Linked DNA regions of Homo sapiens. Changing the gene in region 1 together with any one later gene gives a genetic interaction. Each region holds a gene or a part of one and is shown in the gene's direction. Other genes may lie near its edges.

Region 1 (3,728 bases):
CCAGCACTTTGGGAGGCTGAAGCGGGCGGACAATGAGGTCAGGAGATCGAGACCATCCTGGCTAACACGGTGAAACCCCGTCTCTACTAAAAATAAAAAAAGTGGTGGCGGGCGCCTGTAGTCCCAGCTGCTTGGGAGGCTGAGACAGGAGAATGGCGTGAACCCGGGAGGCGGAGCTTGCGCTCCAGCCTGGGTGACAGAGCAAGACTCCGTCTCAAAAAGCAAAACCAAGCAAAAAAAACAAAGGTCAGCTTTGGGGACCAGAACCTTGTATGGAGTGGAAGTGGTGAAGCTGCAACCTAAAGTAGCCGTTGTAGACTTTGAAGTACATGAAGAGGAAAAGTGGTAACTTGAAAGGACTGAGGAAACATTGGGAGTAAAGAGATTTGAACATGTTTATAGGTGGAAATTGAGAAAAGAAGGCAAAGATTAGGGGTACGATCGGGGGCAAATGCCCAGAAGGGGAACAGGAAGGTCTGCTGGGGAAGCCTCAAAAACAAGGGAGAGGCAGACCCAGGTCTCAGAGAGAGGGACAGTGAGATGGAAAGAATGAACGACAGCTGGGCATGGTAGTCTGAGCTAGTAGTCCCAGCTACTTGGCAGGCTGAGGCAGAAGGATGGCTTGAGCCCTGGAGTTTGGTTTTACCGTGAGCTGTGATCATCTCGCTGCACTCTAGCCTGGGCAACAGAGTGAGACCCTCATCTCTTTAAAAAAAAAAAAAAAAAAAAAAAAAAAAAAGCTGCCCAATGTCTGGTGCCCTTGGCTTCAGAACACAAAGTCATCTGGGTAGGAACAGTCTGGGAAATGAGTAGCCTCTCAAGGTGGGCACCAGAATAAAGGGAGGCAGAGGAGGGTGGTAAGGGAGATCCAGTTAACTGTAGTACCCATGGATTTGCTTTCCTGACCTGGGATCGACAGTGTAGCACAGAGTCCTAGTAGGAAGCAATCTTAGTTTATTGGTTTAATTATTTTATGATATAGGTGTGGCAACTGAGGCCAAATAATGCACCTAATCATAGTCTGATAATAGCACAGCAGTTAGGATTTTATGGTTCTTCAAATTTAAATTCTATGATTCTTCAAATTGAACAATGATCTGGACTTGAAATAATTTTAAAGGCAACAAATGTCCCTGCTGTACTGGACTATGTTTTACTGTCTGTAGACCCTGAAGCTCAATATGAACTACAGAATACCCAAACTTGTATTAATGTAAATCAAGTGTTGAGGTTTTTAAAAGAACACTGGAGGGAAAAACTGACCAGTAAAAATAAAACATTTCGGTGTGAGTTCTTCCTTTAGGAAGAGGATTGGCAAATACTTGAATTTGGCCTTTGTCCCAGAGCTCTTATCTAGCAGTTGGTAATCGGAGGTCTTTTACTGTAATGCTTCAATTGCTGATACCGTATGTGCCTACTAGGGAATTTCTCTTCAATGCCATTGAAACGATGCCTTGTGTCAAGAAGAAGGCAGACTGGGCCTTGCGCTGGATTGGGGACAAAGAGGCTACCTATGGTAAGGAGACCCTTGCCCCTACTTAAACCTGAGCTTCATTTTCCAAGTAATGTTACTGGATTTTTGGCCCTTGAATACCAACTCACTAGAATCATGTTGGTGTTAACTCCTAAATAGGTGAACGTGTTGTAGCCTTTGCTGCAGTGGAAGGCATTTTCTTTTCCGGTTCTTTTGCGTCGATATTCTGGCTCAAGAAACGAGGACTGATGCCTGGCCTCACATTTTCTAATGAACTTATTAGCAGAGATGAGGTGAGTCTAAGTCAAATAATAGGGTGACCTAAACCCCAAACACAACTCGGGCATGCTCTTGTGTTCACTGACGGGGACCTGAGATGCTAGATGGCATATATCCACATTTAATGTGTGAGTTCAACCATACACATACTTGACAAAAGAAGGAAATACTTTCATTTACTGAAACTGTTTTACTTGCATTCTCAATATATTGTAATACATTTGTACATATGTATTCCCCTATAGGCTTTGAATGCATAAAACTACAAGTTCTTTGTTTTTTGAGGTGACGGAATCTTGCTCTGTCGTTCCAGGCTGGAGTGCAATGGCGTGATCTTGGCTCACTGCAACCTCTGCCTCCTAGGTTCAAGTGATTCTCCCGCCTCAGCCTCCCAAGTAGCTGGGATTGTAGGTGCCTGCCACCATGCCCAGCTAATTTTCGTCTTTTTATACAGACGGGGTTTCACCATGTTTGCCAGACTGGGGTTGAACTCCTGACCTCAGGTGATCAGGTGATCCACCCGCCTCGGCCTCCCAGAGTGCTGGGATTATAGGCATGAGCCACCATGCCCAGCCAAAACTACAAGTTATTGATGGGATTGGGATTTTAAGGGATGTTTTATTATTTTTGCCTGGTATTAATATGTTATCCCTTTTTCCGTAAAAATGTTCATAGTAGAGCCAGGAGCGGTGGCTCATGCCTGTAATCCCAGCACTTTGGTAGGCCGAGGCGGGTGGATCATGAGGTCAGGAGATTGAGACCATCCTGGCTAACACGGTGAAACCCCATCTCTACTAAAAATACAAAAAATTAGCCGGGTATGGTGGACGTGCCTATTGTCCCAGCTACTTGAGAGGCTGAGGTAGGAGAATCGCCTGAACCTGGGAGGTGGAGGTTGCAGTGAGTCAAGATCACACCACTGCACTCCAGCCTGGGTGACAGTCCCCCCGAAAAAGAATGTTCATAGTAGCCATTATGTTTCTCCTGTTTGATCTAGAAATTGCCCCTCTACTTCAATATTAATAAGCATTTCAATGAAATGAGTATACATTTTGGTCTAGTGTATGTCTTTGATTAAGTCACATTTGAAAAGCCAGGAGCATGAACTCCATCTTACTTGGAGCCCAGTGGGCAAATCAAATATGGTTACCTTGTAGGAGGGCCTTCCTTACTGGATTGGGAGATAAGCTGTGAAGCTTGATGTTTAATGCAGTAACTTGCAAACTTGATTTACTTGAAATTGCATACAAATTTCCTGAGCATCTAAAAACTAGCCTTATTACTGAGCTTTGCCTTTCCTGCTGGGAGTAGTGGCAAAATTAGCACTCATGGCTGTAGAAAGATCACTGAGTGAAGCTCTGACTCCTCCTTTGCCAACACACAGCAGAGCAAGAAATACACCTTGCCTGTCTTCATCTAGGTGGCAACTTTGAGGGTCTTGAATGGGACTGAGCTTGCCTTGGTAGTGACATCAGCAGAGAAGTCAGTAGTTGAAGTCATCTTCCCTTTGAGAGTTCAAGTGCTCTCAGTATGGCTGAGCATGTTGGATAAGGAGAATGCAGAAAAGGACAAAGTAATTTCATATTCCATGTTAATGACAGAAGTCTTCTGGCTTTAGTGATCTTGAACTTTTTTTTCTAGGGTTTACACTGTGATTTTGCTTGCCTGATGTTCAAACACCTGGTACACAAACCATCGGAGGAGAGAGTAAGAGAAATAATTATCAATGCTGTTCGGATAGAACAGGTAAAGTGGGTGATGAAATGGGTCACTCAAGCTTGCTAGAAAATGCCTGTGCTTTAGTTGTATTCAGAAGCTGTATTTTGGTTCCTAGGAGTTCCTCACTGAGGCCTTGCCTGTGAAGCTCATTGGGATGAATTGCACTCTAATGAAGCAATACATTGAGTTTGTGGCAGACAGACTTATGCTGGAACTGGGTTTTAGCAAGGTAAAGTATTGTTTACATAGCCTTTTG
Region 2 (3,820 bases), on another chromosome or scaffold:
ATAATGCAAGAGCTCCTAGCCCTCAGGTGGTCTATCAGGTGGCCAGTAACCAAGCCGCAGGTTTTGGAGTGCAGGGGCAAACTCCAGCTCAGCAGCTATTGGTTGGGCAGCAAAATGTTCAGTTGGTCCCAAGTGCAATGCCACCCTCAGGGGGAGTACAAACTGTGCCCATTTCGAACTTACAAATATTGCCAGGTCCACTGATCTCAAATAGCCCAGCAACCATTTTCCAAGGGACTTCTGGCAACCAGGTAACCATAACAGTTGTGCCAAATACGAGTTTTGCACCTGCAACTGTGAGTCAGGGAAATGCAACTCAGCTCATTGCTCCAGCAGGAATTACCATGAGCGGAACGCAGACAGGAGTTGGACTTCCAGTACAAACGCTTCCAGCCACTCAAGCATCTCCTGCTGGACAATCATCATGTACTACTGCTACTCCCCCATTCAAAGGTGATAAAATAATTTGCCAAAAGGAGGAGGAAGCAAAGGAAGCAACAGGTTTACATGTTCATGAACGTAAAATTGAAGTCATGGAGAACCCGTCCTGCCGACGAGGAGCCACAAACACCAGCAATGGGGATACAAAGGAAAATGAAATGCATGTGGGAAGTCTTTTAAATGGGAGAAAGTACAGTGACTCAAGTCTACCTCCTTCAAACTCAGGGAAAATTCAAAGTGAGACTAATCAGTGCTCACTAATCAGTAATGGGCCATCATTGGAATTAGGTGAGAATGGAGCATCTGGGAAACAGAACTCAGAACAAATAGACATGCAAGATATCAAAAGTGATTTGAGAAAACCGCTAGTTAATGGAATCTGTGATTTTGATAAAGGAGATGGTTCTCATTTAAGCAAAAACATTCCAAATCATAAAACTTCCAATCATGTAGGAAATGGTGAGATATCTCCAATGGAACCACAAGGGACTTTAGATATCACTCAGCAAGATACTGCCAAAGGTGATCAACTAGAAAGAATTTCTAATGGACCTGTATTAACTTTGGGTGGTTCATCTGTGAGCAGTATACAGGAGGCTTCAAATGCGGCAACACAGCAATTTAGTGGTACTGATTTGCTTAATGGACCTCTAGCTTCAAGTTTGAATTCAGATGTGCCTCAGCAACGCCCAAGTGTAGTTGTCTCACCACATTCTACAACCTCTGTTATACAGGGACATCAAATCATAGCAGTTCCCGACTCAGGATCAAAAGTATCCCATTCTCCTGCCCTATCATCTGACGTTCGGTCTACAAATGGCACAGCAGAATGCAAAACTGTAAAGAGGCCAGCAGAGGATACTGATAGGGAAACAGTCGCAGGAATTCCAAATAAAGTAGGAGTTAGAATTGTTACAATCAGTGACCCCAACAATGCTGGCTGCAGCGCAACAATGGTTGCTGTGCCAGCAGGAGCAGATCCAAGCACTGTAGCTAAAGTAGCAATAGAAAGTGCTGTTCAGCAAAAGCAACAGCATCCACCAACATATGTACAGAATGTGGTCCCGCAGGTAAGTTATTCCATGATCACATTTCTCTTATGAAATTTCTGATCTGTAAATACAATTTTAGAGGGAAATGCACTGTTTTCCATGTCTCATCTTGAAAAGTTACTGTATCAGCTCACTTGTATCCAACCTGTCCTTTTCTTTTTCTCTGGTTTTGTAATATTAGTTTTCAATTTTAGCACATGATTTAAAGAATCTTTCAATTTTGTTATAGATCCAAATTAATAATTTTCTAGGCCCAAGGTAGAGAAGCAGTTGCTAATCTGACATCTTTTGGAGAATTTAAAAAATGTATCTTAATCTCCTTTTTGAGTTTACTGCACAAGTGTTGGGGGGAATGGGGGTCCTAAGAGTACTCTAAATGGGGATTTCTGTATTTGATTTTGACCTGAGTGTGTTTTTGTTGCCTCTTTAACAGTACTGTTGTAATAAGGATGAATCTTGTAATAACTTTATCAGTCGTATTCTTTTTGTATTTATGTATTGCATTAGTCTCCTTTAGTGTTAAAAAGTATTATTTATTGTAATTTCAATTTGTTTCAGATATTCTGATATTCTTTTCTGTTTCTTACTCCTTTGCTTTACTGTCCTATTCCTGCTATTCCCTTTTTAATGCCTAAGATTCCATCTCTGCATGCCTTAGTAAAAACAAGTATTTTCTAAAATCAGCACTACCAAGTTGAGGGTCCAATCAGGCTATGAGGATTTTAAGGACAATCTTATATGCTCTTTCCACTGAAATCATGGATTCTCTTAACAGTCGTCACCACCTGTTTCCTGGATCACTTTTCTTTCACTCTGTTCTTCCTAATTCCTACATAGCCAGAACCTTCTATGACTACTGCCAACTCTGCTGACACAGTTCTGGCTTGGGCTTCTGTATGGTTACGGTGATGACAGCAGATATATGGCTATTGTTGGCATTAGTGCCAAATCTAGGTGTGGGCAATAGCCAAATGGAAAGTACAAGAACAAAGGGAAGAGCCCCTTGCTTCAGAACTAGTAGAATAACTGACAGGTACCAGTCCGTGGCCCTTTAGGAACTGGGCCACACAGCCGGAGGTGAGCGGCAGGTGAGCGAGTGAAGCTTCATCTGTATTTACTTACAGCCGCTTCCCATCACTCACGTTATATCCTGAGCTCTGTCTCCTGTCAGATCAGTGGCAGCATTAGATTCTCGTAGGACCACAAGCCCTATCGTGAACTGTGCATGCGAAGGATCTAGGTTGCACGCTCCTTAGGAGAATCTAACGCCTGATGATCGGTCACTGTCTCCCATTCCCCAGATGGGACTGTCAAGTTGCAGGAAAACAAGCTCAGAGCCCCCAATGATTCTACATTATGGCAAGTTGTATAATTATTTCATTATATATTACAGTGTAATAATAGAAATAAAGTGCTTAATAAATGTAATGCGCTTGTATCACCCCAAAACCATCTCCTCACTCCCTGGTCTGTGGAAAAATTGTCCTCCATGAAACCGGTCCCTGGTGCCAAAAAGATTGGAGACTTCTGCTTTGAGGGATGTTATATACATGGCAATAATTAATCCTGAGTTATTGATGGAAAATACTGTATCATTTTTATTCAAGCTTCCACATGTTGAGCTTTCCACTTAAACACAATTTTTTAATTAGTGCAATGTGGAGTATATAGTAGATATTCCATAGTTAGGTTTTTTCTCTTATATTTAATAATTTCCCACTTCACCTTGATTATGTGCCTGTTACTCCTCTTAGAGACCTTTACAATCCTAAATAGTTATAACAGACCAAGCCAAATTAGAGAAAAACTCCATCTCCATCATTATGGAATTGTTTCACCAACACTCATTTTTTGTACCCTTAATCTTCCAATGTGGTTGTAGTCAGTAATATCACAATTACAAAGAATGAACAATAATACTAGCTAAGACGAGGACATGTCATAGGGACTTTATACTAAAGCAGTTTCTCATTTAATCCTCACACAACCTTATTAGGTAAAATTTATTATAAAGATGAGGACTCAAGATGGCTAGTAACTTGCCCAAGGTTACCAACTAATATGAGGTGGTACCAGGACAGAAACCTGGGTTTGTCTGAAACCAAAACTCATGCTCTTAACCCATTAACCTTTCTTCTTTCCACTGTTCTAGAAGATTTCTCTATAAAGCTCTAGAGAGCCTTTTTTTAATCTAACATATTGATTATTTGAGCTGTTGTGTTAGAGGATGTTCTATTAAATGATCATTTTAGGACATTATTGCTAAAACTCATTGGTTATTTGAGCTGTGGTGTTATGAGATGTTCTACTAAATGATAATTTTAGGA

The links. Genes that interact genetically often act in the same process or in processes that back each other up.
Region 2: changes in RRM2 (region 1) and ARID2 together harm fitness more than expected from each alone (negative genetic interaction), as found in Homo sapiens cells (one large-scale study listed by BioGRID).

What each region holds. Positions count from the first base shown.
Region 1 is NC_000002.12:10,125,454-10,129,181, forward strand, and holds part of RRM2 (ribonucleoside-diphosphate reductase subunit M2), read left to right. Parts: intron 1-1,421; coding exon 1,422-1,516; intron 1,517-1,633; coding exon 1,634-1,767; intron 1,768-3,394; coding exon 3,395-3,499; intron 3,500-3,587; coding exon 3,588-3,701; intron 3,702-3,728. UniProt on the Homo sapiens protein: Provides the precursors necessary for DNA synthesis. Catalyzes the biosynthesis of deoxyribonucleotides from the corresponding ribonucleotides. Inhibits Wnt signaling.
Region 2 is NC_000012.12:45,851,386-45,855,205, forward strand, and holds part of ARID2 (AT-rich interactive domain-containing protein 2), read left to right. Parts: coding exon 1-1,511; intron 1,512-2,794; coding exon of another isoform or gene 2,795-2,852; intron 2,853-3,820. UniProt on the Homo sapiens protein: Involved in transcriptional activation and repression of select genes by chromatin remodeling (alteration of DNA-nucleosome topology). Required for the stability of the SWI/SNF chromatin remodeling complex SWI/SNF-B (PBAF).